2 separate regions of the Homo sapiens genome follow, and region 1 is linked to region 2. Evidence: fine-mapped expression QTL. Tissue or cell type: whole blood. Region 2 holds a variant in brackets; the other region holds the start of a gene. All regions are shown on one strand. Distances are from middle to middle.

Region 1 (8,109 bases), 130 kb after region 2:
GCAGGCCAAGAGAAGAACAGGATGCTGTAGGAGCTGAGTGCACTTCCATAGTTGTTGGGCAAAGGTATGTTTTTCTTGTGGGTTCAAGCTAAGTTACACTGTAAAAATCCTATTAAGAGTGCTGCCCGCCAGAGTGATGAAACTCCACAGGAAGCTCCTGCATGCAGCAATCAGTGACCCCAGTGAGCTCCATCTCCAAAGAACACCCAGTGTGCCTCACGCCGAAAAAAGAGGCAACAAGATATCTGCCAGTGTATAAATTCCACCTGACTACAGGACGCGTGGTAGAGTCAAAGGAGATAAAGAATGTGAAAGCCCTTCTTAGGACATAAAGTGCTATTGAAGTGTTAATTATTAGTAAAAATGACTTAGAATCATCAAACATGTGCTATTAATTTCTTGTCTCATATCTCTAATTACTTAAATCTTTGATTACAACCTGAGAAATTGTGGAAATTACAGGGCTAGAACTCCTGTGATTTCATCACCTCAAATTACTGCCTCAGGCAGATAGTATTTCCAAACCCAGCTAGACACTCACATGACCACACCCCCTTCTCAGCATACTAGATTCAGAATTATGTCAAGTGTCAAGCCACATTCTACTATCCCTTGGAGTCATTACTGAATGGTCAAAAATTCCAATGTATTATGTCATGTGGAAGAGGCCAGAGGAATATCTATCGCATCCTATTTTAAACTCCTGAGAAGGCAACTCAACCATCTGTCTTGGCAACCCATTCCAGGTTGGAACCACCCTGGCAGAAACGTCTCTCTTCTGTTTAATCTAAATCCTTCAAATAGAACCTTGAGATAATTGCATCCCATTTCATTTTCAAATAATTTGGAACACAGTTGTTTACCATCTGGGTTATAGGATTATATAATGTCACAGGGCTGTGGTGAGCAATAAATGAAATAATGCATGTAAAACGCATAGCTCAGTGTCTGGCATATAATAAAGGCTCAGTACATATTTATTATCACCATCATTACATGTGTTAGTACTCTGTCCGTCACAAGTGACATGCAACTCAAAATAATTTAAGCTAAAAAAGGGGGTGGGGTGGAAAATATAATTAAAAAGGAAGTAAAAGTATGCAGTGGCCTTCAGGTACTACCAGATCCAGGACTCAAATAACATTTACAGGACTCCTCTTTCTCTTTCTTCTCCTTTTTTTTAAGACAAGCTTTCAAAGCATAAAAGGCAGGACAGCAACCAGCAGATTCAGTTGGGGTAAACCGTTATCTTAACCACTTTGAATAGGTTCCCTGTTCATCAGTTCATTTATCAAAAATTTATTGAATGTGTTAAGCAGGGTTCTGAGAGCTGAGAATACAGCAATACACAAAACAGATAAAACTGCTATCCTCTTGGAATTTACCTTCTAGTGGAAAGAGGGAATCTGTTAGAAGGAGAAGGGATGCTAGAAAGATAAAAATGTTATCCTCCACAAAATAAGGTCACGTCTTATACCTTAAGATCAACTCTTATCTTTCTTTCCTCCCAGCTAGTAAACTCAATCCTTTTACAACGTTCTTCCCTTTCACAAACATGTGAAATCCCCCAAATCAGGTCTTCAAATGGATAAATAGCCTTGTCTATGGATTTTGAGTGCATTTAGTTTACTTTTGCTGTGTAATCTCTGCATAATGTTTCTACAATATGCCTGTAGTTATAATAATATAACCTTCCTGTTTCCATTTTTTTGAATCACTTATTCTTTTTAGACTATTTTTGCATTAAATACAGGTCTTTCTTCTGCCTTCATGGTTTCCTTAAAATACGATGTTAATTAGTAAAATCCTGCAAAAACCTGGTCATTTATTAGTCATTTAAAAAATATTCCTCTGAGCGATTTTAATTCTATTCCTCTGTATTAACTATTCTAACTCTATAAAATTGAAGTCCTGGAGACCAAGCTTTTGAGAATCCCAGGAAGTGTGGCCTAATACTAGAAAATCTCAACTTCTGCCTCTCCCCTTTAAGTACACAGTAAGAAATGCTTGCATGAAGCATTTTAGGCTGTGTTCTTATGATAAAATTCAACTTTCATGAAATAAATTAATCTGAATCAAGTTGTCCTCATCTGAAAATGCCTAGATTTATTAGTGCTAGCCCGGCTTTATTCCACAAACAATTCTATTTAAATTAGGTGTTGGTCTAACAAATCTGCCTGACCACAGCAATGACTCACGGACCATGTAGGAAACAACTTTCACTAAATTCAAGATTGCTCAAGTGAAAAGGTGCGCGGGGGAGGGGAGGAAGAGTTGGTTGTCCTCATCATTTTTATTTTTAAGTAATATTACAAGTTATCTATCCTGCCCCAACTGTTTCCTCAATTTGGTTGCTTTTCATTCCACTGTGGTTGGCATCTTTTGTCAAGGCAGTAATTTATTTCTTTTAATCCGGATATAATGGCCAAATGGGCGATCTGACTCACTCAAATCCCATCGTTAAAACTTATCTTGGAATTAAACAAAAATGGATTTTTAATCGTAGAGCTCATCAGCCTCATAGTCTCCACCTCATTTCTGAATGGCCTTGTTCGGCTTGCACCTTCTGTGCTTGCTGAACCAAAGCGCGCTGGTCGGCCGCGGCATCTCCGGAAGGGATGAAGAGCCTCCGCGCACACGCCCCTTACTTCCCTGTCCCGCACGCGCCACGAGCACGCTTGCAAAAGACGGGGAGGTGGCGGGGACAGAGACAGAGGAAATGAGAGAGAGAGAACGAAAGAGAAAGGAGAGAGAGGGAGAGAGAGAGGGAGAGAGAAGAGGGGAAGGAGAAGAGAGAAAAAAGAAAAAAAGGTCTGCTCTGGGATTATTATTATTATTTGGGTTAATACTCTTATCTTTGCATTCCAGCCGGAAGGTCGGCTCCAAGCCTTCTTTCCTGCCCTCCTCCTTCTTGAATTGGACACCATCCCTGTTGCCGCCTCCTGAGTCAGGAAAGGGATAGAACTTTCCCAGGGAGGTGAGGGGTGTCCCCGTGGCGATTTCCCGGTTACTTCCTCCCAGCAGATATCCCTGTGGAGAGGAAACGTTCCCGACTTCCCTCCCCGCGACCTCCTCCCTAGAAACGAGCGGAGACGTCAGGCTGCTTCTGGGTTTATTTTGTAAACCCAGACAGTCAACTGCACTTGGCGCAGGCAAAGCCTCCTTGGCCCTTGCCCCAAAGCAAAGCTCTAAGAGGTCCGGGGATTCCTTGGCCTGGGTGGGGAGAGAGACGTGACCTGTGCGGCCGCCGCGAAGTGGGTCTCCAAGGGTGAGACCCCTCCCTCGGTGGCTGGGCGTGTCCCCTTTAGCCTTCCTGGACCCCATTACCGCCCGGCTTGGAGCTGGACGAAGGGACGTAATTGGTAGGCGAGTGGGTTGGGCATCTTGACTCAAGGACCAGAGTCTGGGCCTCTGGTGTGGACCCCTGCCCCCTCCCCGCTCTGCGCGGCCGTTCTAGAGGTCCGGGTGGGAGCTGGAGGAGGAAAGCGGGAGGAGGCGGCGAGGCCGCGGGGCGGTATGAGGGGGCGCCGGCCGCCTCTCGGATTGGCTGCGCCGCCGCCCCCTCCGCATCGCGCGCCCCCCACCACGCGCCCAGCCTGCTCCCTCCCGCAGGCTCCGAGCTGCTGCCCGCAGGAGGCAGGACGCGCAGGGGTGGGACCGGCGCCCCAGCCCGTCTCCCGGCCCCGGGCGCGCGGGAACCCCGGGTCCTGCAGCCTCCCGAGTGCGGAGAGGCGGGGCCGCCCGCTGCCGCCCGGCTGCCTGCGCCCCCTCCCGCGGCCCCGGCTCTGGGAGCGGGGCGCCCCGCGCGCGGGCACACGGCGGCCAGAGCGCCGAGGCGGTACCTTCAGCCTGCAATGAGAGGAACCCGGGAGAGCCCCCGGGAGCCAGCGAAGAGCTTGGCTGCTGCGTCCAGGGCTGCTGCTGCCGCCGCGGCTGCTTGAAACTCCTCAAAGTTGAGAGCCGGCTAGAGGGTGCCGCCCGCCGGGAGCCGGAGGGAAAGGAAGTCGGAAGGTGCAAGAGTGACAGACACGGACAGACGGACGCGCAGACCTTCGGAAGGCACTGCGTAGGCAGCCTCCCCGGAGCCCACGAGGCTCCCCAGCACCGTGAGTTTTTTCCTGGATGGGTGGTTGCTAAGTATTTCCGTTTAATTGTTTGTAGCGTACGTTTGCGTATAGTTGTGTCTGTTGGAGGGAGTTTAAAACAACAACAACAACAACAACAACGCAGGATGCACCTTAGGAAAAAATTGAGTTTCTGATGGTGGGTGAGACGGTGGGTTGTATGGAGAGAATGTGACTGTACATTTTTATAAGCAGGACTAACCCAGGAAAGAGGAAAAAATACATTTAACAGTGAAGAGGCAACACAGAGCTCCCTATTGTGAAATAAAACCCATTTCAAAAGTTATTGGAAAGAAAGTAAGGTATGGCTCTTATGGGTTAACTAGTGGTAGTCAGTTTCTGCTTTTTACTCCCTCTGAATTATTAATTGTTTGCCAGGTTCACTGGTGGGAGGCTGAGCCGGTGGAAAAGACACCGGGAAGAGACTCAGAGGCGACCATAATGTCGTTACGTGTACACACTCTGCCCACCCTGCTTGGAGCCGTCGTCAGACCGGGCTGCAGGGAGCTGCTGTGTTTGCTGATGATCACAGTGACTGTGGGCCCTGGTGCCTCTGGGGTGTGCCCCACCGCTTGCATCTGTGCCACTGACATCGTCAGCTGCACCAACAAAAACCTGTCCAAGGTGCCTGGGAACCTTTTCAGACTGATTAAGAGACTGGACCTGAGTTATAACAGAATTGGGCTTCTGGATTCTGAGTGGATTCCAGTATCGTTTGCAAAGCTGAACACCCTAATTCTTCGTCATAACAACATCACCAGCATTTCCACGGGCAGTTTTTCCACAACTCCAAATTTGAAGTGTCTTGACTTATCGTCCAATAAGCTGAAGACGGTGAAAAATGCTGTATTCCAAGAGTTGAAGGTTCTGGAAGTGCTTCTGCTTTACAACAATCACATATCCTATCTCGATCCTTCAGCGTTTGGAGGGCTCTCCCAGTTGCAGAAACTCTACTTAAGTGGAAATTTTCTCACACAGTTTCCGATGGATTTGTATGTTGGAAGGTTCAAGCTGGCAGAACTGATGTTTTTAGATGTTTCTTATAACCGAATTCCTTCCATGCCAATGCACCACATAAATTTAGTGCCAGGAAAACAGCTGAGAGGCATCTACCTTCATGGAAACCCATTTGTCTGTGACTGTTCCCTGTACTCCTTGCTGGTCTTTTGGTATCGTAGGCACTTTAGCTCAGTGATGGATTTTAAGAACGATTACACCTGTCGCCTGTGGTCTGACTCCAGGCACTCGCGTCAGGTACTTCTGCTCCAGGATAGCTTTATGAATTGCTCTGACAGCATCATCAATGGTTCCTTTCGTGCGCTTGGCTTTATTCATGAGGCTCAGGTCGGGGAAAGACTGATGGTCCACTGTGACAGCAAGACAGGTAATGCAAATACGGATTTCATCTGGGTGGGTCCAGATAACAGACTGCTAGAGCCGGATAAAGAGATGGAAAACTTTTACGTGTTTCACAATGGAAGTCTGGTTATAGAAAGCCCTCGTTTTGAGGATGCTGGAGTGTATTCTTGTATCGCAATGAATAAGCAACGCCTGTTAAATGAAACTGTGGACGTCACAATAAATGTGAGCAATTTCACTGTAAGCAGATCCCATGCTCATGAGGCATTTAACACAGCTTTTACCACTCTTGCTGCTTGCGTGGCCAGTATCGTTTTGGTACTTTTGTACCTCTATCTGACTCCATGCCCCTGCAAGTGTAAAACCAAGAGACAGAAAAATATGCTACACCAAAGCAATGCCCATTCATCGATTCTCAGTCCTGGCCCCGCTAGTGATGCCTCCGCTGATGAACGGAAGGCAGGTGCAGGTAAAAGAGTGGTGTTTTTGGAACCCCTGAAGGATACTGCAGCAGGGCAGAACGGGAAAGTCAGGCTCTTTCCCAGCGAGGCAGTGATAGCTGAGGGCATCCTAAAGTCCACGAGGGGGAAATCTGACTCAGATTCAGTCAATTCAGTGTTTTCTGACACACCTTTTGTGGCGTCCACTTAATTTGTGCCTATATTTGTATGATGTCATAATTTAATCTGTTCATATTTAACTTTGTGTGTGGTCTGCAAAATAAACAGCAGGACAGAAATTGTGTTGTTTTGTTCTTTGAAATACAACCAAATTCTCTTAAAATGATTGGTAGGAAATGAGGTAAAGTACTTCAGTTCCTCAATGTGCCATAGAAAGATGGGGTTGTTTTCCAAAGTTTAAGTTCTAGATCACAATATCTTAGCTTTTAGCACTATTGGTAATTTCAGAGTAGGCCCAAAGGTGATATGACTCCCATTGTCCCTTTATTTAGGATATTGAAAGAAAAAATAAACTTTATGTATTAGTGTCCTTTAAAAATAGACTTTGCTAACTTACTAGTACCAGAGTTATTTTAAAGAAAAACACTAGTGTCCAATTTCATTTTTAAAAGATGTAGAAAGAAGAATCAAGCATCAATTAATTATAAAGCCTAAAGCAAAGTTAGATTTGGGGGTTATTCAGCCAAAATTACCGTTTTAGACCAGAATGAATAGACTACACTGATAAAATGTACTGGATAATGCCACATCCTATATGGTGTTATAGAAATAGTGCAAGGAAAGTACATTTGTTTGCCTGTCTTTTCATTTTGTACATTCTTCCCATTCTGTATTCTTGTACAAAAGATCTCATTGAAAATTTAAAGTCATCATAATTTGTTGCCATAAATATGTAAGTGTCAATACCAAAATGTCTGAGTAACTTCTTAAATCCCTGTTCTAGCAAACTAATATTGGTTCATGTGCTTGTGTATATGTAAATCTTAAATTATGTGAACTATTAAATAGACCCTACTGTACTGTGCTTTGGACATTTGAATTAATGTAAATATATGTAATCTGTGACTTGATATTTTGTTTTATTTGGCTATTTAAAAACATAAATCTAAAATGTCTTATGTTATCAGATTATGCTATTTTGTATAAAGCACCACTGATAGCAAATCTCTCTCCAAAATTCTTAAAGTTGATTTTTTTAAAGGGGGAGGGGAAGGCTTTAATGTGTTCTAGATCAATTTATACCTTCCGTATGACGTTTTACTCTGATATCATTGTGCACTTTAGCCAGATCCAGAAAACACTCAAATTTATTTTGCAACAAGTGAGAGCCCAGGAGACCTCCTTATTATCCTGTCTCTGCTTTGAGGCAATCAAGTACCCTCTCTGAACCTAGGTTCCCTCATCTGTAAAACAAAGGTTTCAGACCAGATGGTGTTTAAGGTTTCTCCCCATACTGGAATGAATGATTTCTTGGTGGTATTAGCATCATCACAGACCTATACTTGCTTTCTGAAACTCTACCACATACTGAAGGAATACAGGAATGGGATTAAGATGACTAGCATAGCAGTGTACAGCTTGAAGAGATGTTCCACATCATCACTCCAGCTCCTTCTCTTTTCTCAGGGACAAATGAGGCCCAGAGAGAATACGACCTGTGTAAGGTCAAACAGTGGCAGGGAAAGAAGGAGAGCTGGGGTTTAGCATTCTCCCTGGTGAAGATTGGAGGTCCAAAGAAATGACTCCTTTTTAAGGGATGGGCATAAAAAAGTGATCAAAACATTGCAAAGGAGAATCAAAGATTGATTGTCCTGGGGCTAAGAAAGAAGATAATTTTTAAAGAATGGGAGTGGGCAACAGTGAAAAATATTGCAGATAAGTAGATAAGGATAGAAGATCAACCACTGACTGGTAGTAATGGTTTTCTGTGAACAAATCAGAATAGTAATAGTAATAACGATAATCAGGGATGCATGGTGAGAGCTCCCTAAGTGCCATGTGGGGCTTTCAGTGGCAGACTGGGCAGCGGGAAGTTAAGGAACAAGTAGCCAGGAGGTGTCCTTTTAGGGAACAGTATGTAGATCCGCTGCTCGGTAGCATTGAAAAGTCCCTATTGGATGGTGTTAAAAATTACTGTCCCTGCCCCTTAAACACCAACCTCACCC
Region 2 (8,109 bases):
TTTCTTGTCTCACTCTGTTGCCCAAGTTGGAATTCAGTGGCGAAATCATGGCTCACTGCAGCAACTCTGCAGGCTCAATCAATCCTCCCACTTCAGCCTCCCTAGTAGCTGGGACTACAGGCCTGTGCCACCATGCCTGGCTAATTTTTATAGTTTTTTTTAGAGACAGGGTTTCATCATGTTGTCCAGGCTGGTCTTGAACTTAGACTCAAATAATCCACCTGCCTCAGCCTTCCAAAGTGCTTGGATTACGGGTGTGGGCCACCGCACCTGGACTACATATTCTAATTTTCTCCATTTTATACTTTTAAAAATTAAGGCTAAAAGATTGAGTAATCTGCCCAAGGTCATCCATTTTATAAGAAGTAGTGCTGGAAGTAAAACCTGATGCCAAGCCTTTGTGGTCAACCACAACATACAAGATTGCAGACAACAGATGCCTCACGTCCCTTCTCCAGTTCACAACTAAATTGGCTGTTTTCTTTCACTGTCCATTTTAATAAATTTACAAGTTTATCAATCACTAATATTTTTGTTATTGCCAAGCACCAGTTGTCTCTTTAGTGTTACATGGGGTGGGCTGAAGGAGGCTAGGGTGCTGATTCCTGTCTACAGTAAGTGCCCAAAAAATGATGGTCTCAAGAAAGGCTGGTCAGAAATGCCAACTTAAAGTTTCAGATAAAATGGAAAAACTGAAAAGTACTTACTCATTAAAGTAACTGGTGATTTTTAAGCATCTCTCTCAGTTGATTCTAGATCTCGTCCCTAGATAGCTTTCTTCCTCTCCTGTAGATCATTGTGACCAGACGGGAGATCTCAGAGCTTGGGCTATAGGGGAAATAGGTTAGCCTCTGGGTGCTGCTGTGCTTGCAAGCCAGCGTCTGGGGAGAAGATGACATTTCCGGTGGCATCTGGGGCAAACGACACAAGTCAGCATTTAGTTTCTTGCTTTAGGAAGCGGAAGACTAATGACCGAAGCTTCAAGACTTTGACATGTGTGAAAACATGAAATGGTAAGTCAATACAAAGACAGCATCTTCCTGGAATTTGGTTTTGAGCTTGTTTTCATTTCACCTTTCTCAGTAATCTGGGTGTAGCTTATTTTGACTCTTCCTTTGATTAAACAATTCAGACCCTTGGCTCTTATTGTTCTTGCTGGTGTGGTATGTTCACGGCTGAAAAGATGGTCAGAAGGGGAAAGGAGGAAGTGAGAAGAAAGAAACAGGGAAATGGTAAGAAGAACTCTACTTTTCTAAATAATATTTAATAGTAGTAATCTTGTGTTTCTGTGCAAGGTGTTACAGTTTACAAACCGCTTTTATTTTTATTTATTTATTTTTTTTGAGACGGAGTTTTGGTCTTGTTGCCCAGGCTGGAGTGCAGTGGCATGGTCTCGGCTCATTGCAACCTCTGCCTCCCAGGTTCAAGCGATTCTCCTGCTTCAGGCTCCGAGTAGCTGTGACTACATGCACCCACCACCACACCCGGCTGATTTTGTATTTTTAGTAGAGATGGTGTTTCACCATGTTGGCCAGTCTGGTCTCGAACTCCTTACCTCAGGTGATCCACCCGCCTTGGCCTCCCAAAGTGCTGGGATTATAGGGGTGAGCCACCATGGCAGGCCACAAACCGCTTTTAAATCCTTTCACTTCATCTCTCCACTGACGTCTTGATGGAAAAATGGCTCAGTCCACACTACAGGAAACCACAGGCCTGAGCCCCAGCCTCAGCTAGATCCAGTATGTGGCAGAGCAAGATAAGAACTTTCTGCTTCCTCCCTTAGTGTTCCACTTGAAACCAGCAGGTAACTCAAGGGGACAGCGTGCTTAAAAGGGAGATGGTTCGTCTGGCGCTGTGGCTCATGCCTGTAATCCCAGCACTTTGGGAGGCCGAGGCGGGTGGATCACCTGAGGTCAGGAGTTCGAGACCAGCCTGGCCAACATGGTGCAACTCCGTCTCTACTGAAAATACAAAAATTAGCTGGGCGTGGTGGTGGGCCCCTGTAATCCCAGCTACTCGGGGGGCTGAGGCAGGAGAATCGCTTGAACCCAGGAGGCGGAGGTTGCAGTGAGCCAAAATCGTCCCATTGCACTCCAGTCAGGGTGACAAGAGCAAGACTCCATCTTTAAAAAAAAAAAAAGGGTGGGGGAGATGGTCTTCTGATTGATTAGATAAGTGTAGGCATTTGTTTTCTTTTGTCTGGAATAATATGATTTCGGGGAGAGGAATATCACTTTCCCTACAAATACCAAGATGAAAAAGAAAAGGAAATAATGAATCAGAAAAAAAAGAGAGAGAGAAAATGCATGACTACAGAAGGTCCCAGTGCATGACTACAGAAGATCAGAATATACCACCCCCAGGTTCCCGTAATCCCAGGTCCTTGGGAGGCTGAGGCAGGAGAATCGCTTCAACCCAGGAGGCGTAGGTTGCAGCAAGCCGAGATTGCGCCACTGCACCTCAGCCTGGGCAACAGCGAGACTCCATCTCAAAAATAAAAAATATGCCACCCCAAAATATAGTTATTTGGCATATTTCGAGCTGATTATTCTGAGCAACTGCAGACACAAGAGTATCTCTGAAAAGCTGTCCTTTTGTAAAATAAATTTATATTTATAAAAGAAATCTACATTAGTCAAAGTATCTGTATCAGGAAGAGTCCTGCTCTCAGACAACTTTTATTACCTGGGGGATTCCAGTGTGTGTGCATATAATTAAAAATGTTTTTTCCTTTTCTTTTCTTTTTTTTTGAATTGAGATTTGGTCTCAATATGTTGCCCAGGCTGGTCTTGAACTCGTGGGCTCAAGTGATCCTCCCACCTCAGCTTCCCAAAGTGCTGGGATCACAGGCATGAGCCACCGAGCCTGGCCAAAAATGTTTTTTTCTCCTGTTAATCTGTTTTATGTCAATTTAATTTGTATCCCAGCCAAAGAACCTAGAAGTAGGGAGGAAGCCATTTTCCCTCCCTTACAGCACAAAATAACTAACCAACAAGAGTAAGAGGTTTCACAACAGTCCTGAATTACATGCTCTGAAGACTTAG[C/G]TTTTTTTAATAGTATGCTATTTATGTAAACTGGATTATAATGTGACATAATTGTCTTTCCTTGAAAAATATCATTTTACTTTACATCACTGTCTATTCAGTGTGTGGCTTAAAATTAATTCCATACCTTATGCATTGTTTTCATCCTCTATGGCCATCAATAAAGTTATCTTGCAGTTCCCCATGAGTTTTAGTACAGTCATTACCGGGAAATTTAATAGAATCAAGGCAGAACCCAACTGATAGCTTTAGTATTTTATAATCCAGAGTAGTCTATTACATAACTTTGAAAAATCTGCCATTATTTAGTTCTAGCAATTCTATAAATGAATTGCAAATCTTTCTAGTTCTGTAGATTTCAGCTAGTCTGTGCACTGTGAGAATAAAAGGACAATCTCTGTAATCATCCCAAGACCAGAGAACAGAAGAGCTGTAATAATGCAAATGATAATCACACTTATACTCTTTAAACTTAAAATAAAGTTGAGATCAACAGATTTTCAACTGATTTTCTTGCTTTCAAGAACTTATTATGCTCTATGTAGACAGCTACTATTGCTATTCTGGCCCTATCTCATGTTTCAAAGCTCAGTGAGCCATCTTTTATTTTTTACCCACCAAACTTGGCTTTTTCTTAAACAGTAATGACAACTTATGCACATATAATGTTTTACCCTGTGAATGTGCTTTCACACACAGATATCCTTTACTATTAGCAGCTCATTAGTAGTTATAGCCACAGAGAAATTTAAACTTTGCTTTATGCAAGCCATTACCATTTTATCCACATTTTCTATCTTAAGGAACGCAATTATTTTTCTTATCTTCTTGGGAATCCTATAAGAGGGCCAGAAATCAGCCCATTAAATATATACATATATATACATTAATTTCAGCTGGCTCGTGTGTGTATGTGTTTAAATCTATTCCTGGGCTGCCTTAAACGAATGGGCCAAATTTGGCAAATCACAAAACTATGTTTTTTTCTTTGGTTGTCTGACTTAAACAGTCCACATATTTTTGATAATTTCTCTTCAAAGCACTCACAATTAGTACTTTCAAGCACATATGAATAATGAATAATTTGTTTCTATTAGGGTACGAAATCTTCTCTGATAACATATTAGGAACTTTGAGATTCTGGATTAAAACTTCTCATGAGTTCGATTTAGTAACAGAACTAAATTTTGCACGAAGTATGTGCAAACTTTGTGTTGATGAACAAGGCAATACTTATTGGGATTTGGGATGTTACAGATTGAGAAAAGCCAAATCAGTGATTTCACTATTCAGGATGGATGGAATGAGAAATGTGAATTTATAAAAGATCCCATTCTGTCAGGATTTCTTAAACATTTCCACAAAATTCTTAGAATTCTTATGTTTTATGCAAGTTCTGTATTCTGTTCCAATGCAGCCTAGTGGTTCAGAACATGGCCTTTGCAGGCAGAAAAGCCTGAGTTCAGAGTCCCAAATTAATAATCCACAAGCTGTGTGACTTTGGGAAAGGTACTCAACTCCTCTGGCCCACTTCCAGTTGTGAAGTTTAAACCTGCAAAGTGCTAAGCAGACTGCTTGGTACTTAGTAAATGCTCATTTTTGTTCCAGGGATTAGTATACATGCATCCATGCTTTAGTAATGCAAAATAATTCTTTAAATGACTAACCACTGGAAAAAAACGTAAATACTGACAAGTACCTTGTTTGATGGGCACTGTTCCATGGGCTGGTATGACACCATCACTGCAGGAATAGACTGCGCAAGTGGAGGGGAGATGACAGAAATCATCGTTAGGTCAAGTTGAAGCTCGGGGAGATTGAGCAACTGTCTGAATCACACAGGTTAACTACTGAGCTTGGACTAAAGACCAGGCTTCCTGGGTCCTGGACTCATAGTTCCAGAGCTATAGTTCATGAATTTTTTTCTCTAAGGCTGTAAGCTCTTTTTACAGAGAATAATTTAATGCCCTGCAAGAACTGGGTCTTACATTATTTAGCAATGTCCCTTACCTTTAAACCACAGGCTTAGTTTTCCAATTCCGGTCCTCTCTCCTTTTTTCTTTTTGTTTTTTGAGACAGAGTCTCTTGCTCTGTCACCTATGCTGGAGTGCAGTGGCATGATCTCAGCTCACTGAAACCTCCACCTCCGGGCTCAAGTGATCCTCACACCTCAGTCTCCCACCTACCCCCAGTAGCTGGGACCACAGGAGTGAGCCACCATGCCCTGCTAGTTTTTTGTATTTTTGGTAGAGATTGGGTTTTTTTTTTTTTTTTTTTTGAGACGGAGTCTCGCTCTGTCTCCCAGGCTGGAGTACAGTGGCACGATCTCGGCTCACTGCAAGCTCCGCCTCCCGGGTTCACGCCATTCTCCTGCCTCAGCCTCCCAAGTAGCTGGGACTACAGGCGCCCGCCACTACGCCCGGCTAATTTTTTGTATTTTTAGTAGAGACGGGGTTTCACCGTTTTAGCCGGGATGGTCTCGATCTCCTGACCTCGTGATCCGCCCGCCTCGGCCTCCCAAAGTGCTGGGATTACAGGCGTGAGCCACCGTGCCCAGCCGAGAGATTGGGTTTTACCTTGTTGCCCAGGCTGGCTTTGAACTTCTGGGCTCAAGTGATCCACCCGCCTCAGCCTCCCAAAGTGCTGGAATTACAGGCCTGAGCCACTGCGCCCAGTTTTTTTTTTTTTTTTTTTTTTTTGAGACAGAGTCTCACTCTGTTGCCCATAGTAGAGTGCAGTGGTGCGATCTTGGCTCATTGCAACCTCTGCCTCCCAGGTTCAAGCAGTTCTCCTGCCTCAGCCTCCTGAGTAGCTGGGATTATAGCCATGTGCCACTACACCTGGCTCCTTTTTTTTTTTTTAAAGTAGAGTTGGGGTTTCACCATGTTGGCCAGGCTGGTCTTGAACTCCTGGCCTCAAGTGATCCACATGCCTCAGCCTCCCAAAGTGCTGGGATTACAGGCGTGAGTCACCGCACCTGGCCATAAGGTTGTTTTGTCAAGGAAGATAGAAACAGCTTAATATTTTTGGATGTGTGCTGTTCTTCCTTTCTTACTTTATTAGATAAACATCCATCGAGTGCTCCTTCGGTCAGGCACAGTGCTTAGCACCTGAGATATGAGGTTGAGTAGGATATGGTCTTCTCTATGTTCTGTAGCTCACAGTGCAGGGAGGGAAAAACACAGAAGCAGATAACTAGAATTCAATGTTGGGAGTGCATTTATGGCTTTATGTTAGAGTATCACTTCTATTACTGAAAAGGGATTTTTAAAATTCTACTGAAAACATGAAAATGAAAATAGCGCCATGAAAAGTAGCTTCTAGTCATATTCTTTTATGATGAATATTTGCTTTGCATATACGATTGGCCCATATTGCATCATTTGTTTTATAAATTAATCGTATATCACTATTCCATTTTACCGGTAAAATAGTAGGCTTTTAAGTATTTTTCCCAATTATCACTTACAAAAATATTGTTACAGCTTACTTTTTTTGACCTTCCTTTTTCTTTTAGGGTGCTCTTTTCCTTAACATAGTTTGTTGTTGTGTCTCTGAAATATATTTATTTATTATTATTACTTTTTTCAGACAGAGTGTTGCTCAGTTACCCAGGCTGGAGTGCAATGGCATGATCTTGGCTCACTGCAGCCTCCACCTCCTGGGTTCAAGCGGTTCTCGTGCCTCAGTCTCCCAAGTAGCTGGGATTACAGGTATGCACCACCATGCCCAGCCAATTTTGTATTTTTAGTAGAGGCAGGGTTTCACCATGTTGGCTAAGCTGGTCTTGAACTCCTGACCTCAGGTGATCTACCTGCTTCAGCCTCTCAGAGTGCTGGGATTACAGGCATGAGCCACCAAGCCCGGCCTGAAATACATTTAAATAAATGAAGATGGAGAATCAGACATTACTTTCATTTATCTGAATCTGGTGTAGTTTAATTAATCTGTAATTGTAAGTCTTTGAATCATATGTCAATATTCTATTTTGTTAGTCATGATTTCTAAGTGTTACATAACTGTGGCCCCAGCCACTTTATATTTTGGTATCATGACAGAAGACTCTGATTGTGGTTATTTTCTACCTATGCATTTATTCTTAGTGATATATGTTGGTTAAATTATGGCATAGTTTTAAAATACATGACAAAAATAGCTAACAGTAAAGAAATGTCTTTGTTTCTGGTTGAATAAACTGACCACGCAAGGTTCCAATTTAAAATAAATTCTAAACGAATCATGTTATTTTCCAAAACTGTTCCTCCTCTCAGTAAATGAAATCAATATCCACCCGGTTACCCCAAGACAGAAATCTCAAGATCATCTGTGACTCCTTCCTCTTCATCTGCCACAAGAAGAGTAGCTTCTATCTCCAAAGCTAGTCTCTGATCAGTCTACTTCTCTTCCTATAGCCTCTGCTTTAGTTCAAATCTAGAATCCTGCTGTGGTGGTGCTGTGGCTTCCAAGTTCATCTTCTTCCAATCCGTTCTCTAAACTACAGTCTTGCTCTTTCTAAGACTCAGATCTTATAATTTTACTTCCCTTCATAGGTTGAATTTAACCTGCTAAATCACATAAAATTTTTCTGAAGATACCAGCCTTTCTGCCTTAATCAAACACATTAGCCAAATCCATAGCATTACTGGGATAAAGCCTGAAGATCCCAAATTGATAAGGCATCTGGATTCCCTTTGATAACAGTATTCAATAACAATGAACACCTACTGAGTATACTATTCCAAGCATTTAAAGTGTATCAACTCTTTTCACAAAATCAACAATAATTATTATTGCTACCATTTATTGAGAGTCTACTTTAATCCAGGTGTTACATATTCATGTATTCATTATTATTACCTTTTTTTTTGAGACGAAATCTTGCTCTGTTGCCCAGGCTGGAGTGCGATGGCATGATCTTGGCTCACGGCAAACTCCGCCTCCCTGGTTCAAGTGATTCTCCTGCCTCAGCCTCCCGAGTAGCCGGGATTACAGGCATGTGCCACCATGCCCCGTTGGCCAGGCTGGTCTCGAACACCTTACCTCAGGTGATCCTCCCACCTTTGGG

The links. PIP is the estimated chance that this variant, and not a neighbour inherited with it, causes the effect.
Region 1: it holds the start of PCED1B, and the variant in region 2 is fine-mapped to the expression of PCED1B in whole blood (INTERVAL, PIP above 0.99).

Annotation. Positions count from the first base shown.
Region 1 is chr12:47,075,459-47,083,567 of GRCh38, reverse strand. PCED1B (PC-esterase domain containing 1B) reads right to left here and starts at 3,947. Exons shown (of 4, transcript NM_138371.3): 1 at 3,843-3,947. AMIGO2 (adhesion molecule with Ig like domain 2) reads left to right here and starts at 3,609. Exons shown (of 3, transcript NM_001370299.1): 1 at 3,609-4,106; 2 at 4,320-4,426; 3 at 4,503-7,121. The coding sequence starts at 4,566. The coding sequence ends at 6,134.
Region 2 is chr12:47,209,288-47,217,396 of GRCh38, reverse strand. It overlaps PCED1B (PC-esterase domain containing 1B), which reads right to left. Exons shown (of 4, transcript NM_138371.3): 3 at 708-1,175. PCED1B-AS1 (PCED1B antisense RNA 1) reads left to right here and starts at 954. Exons shown (of 3, transcript NR_026544.1): 1 at 954-1,013; 2 at 1,133-1,232; 3 at 6,636-8,109. The variant C/G (reference allele first, on the strand shown) is at 3,045.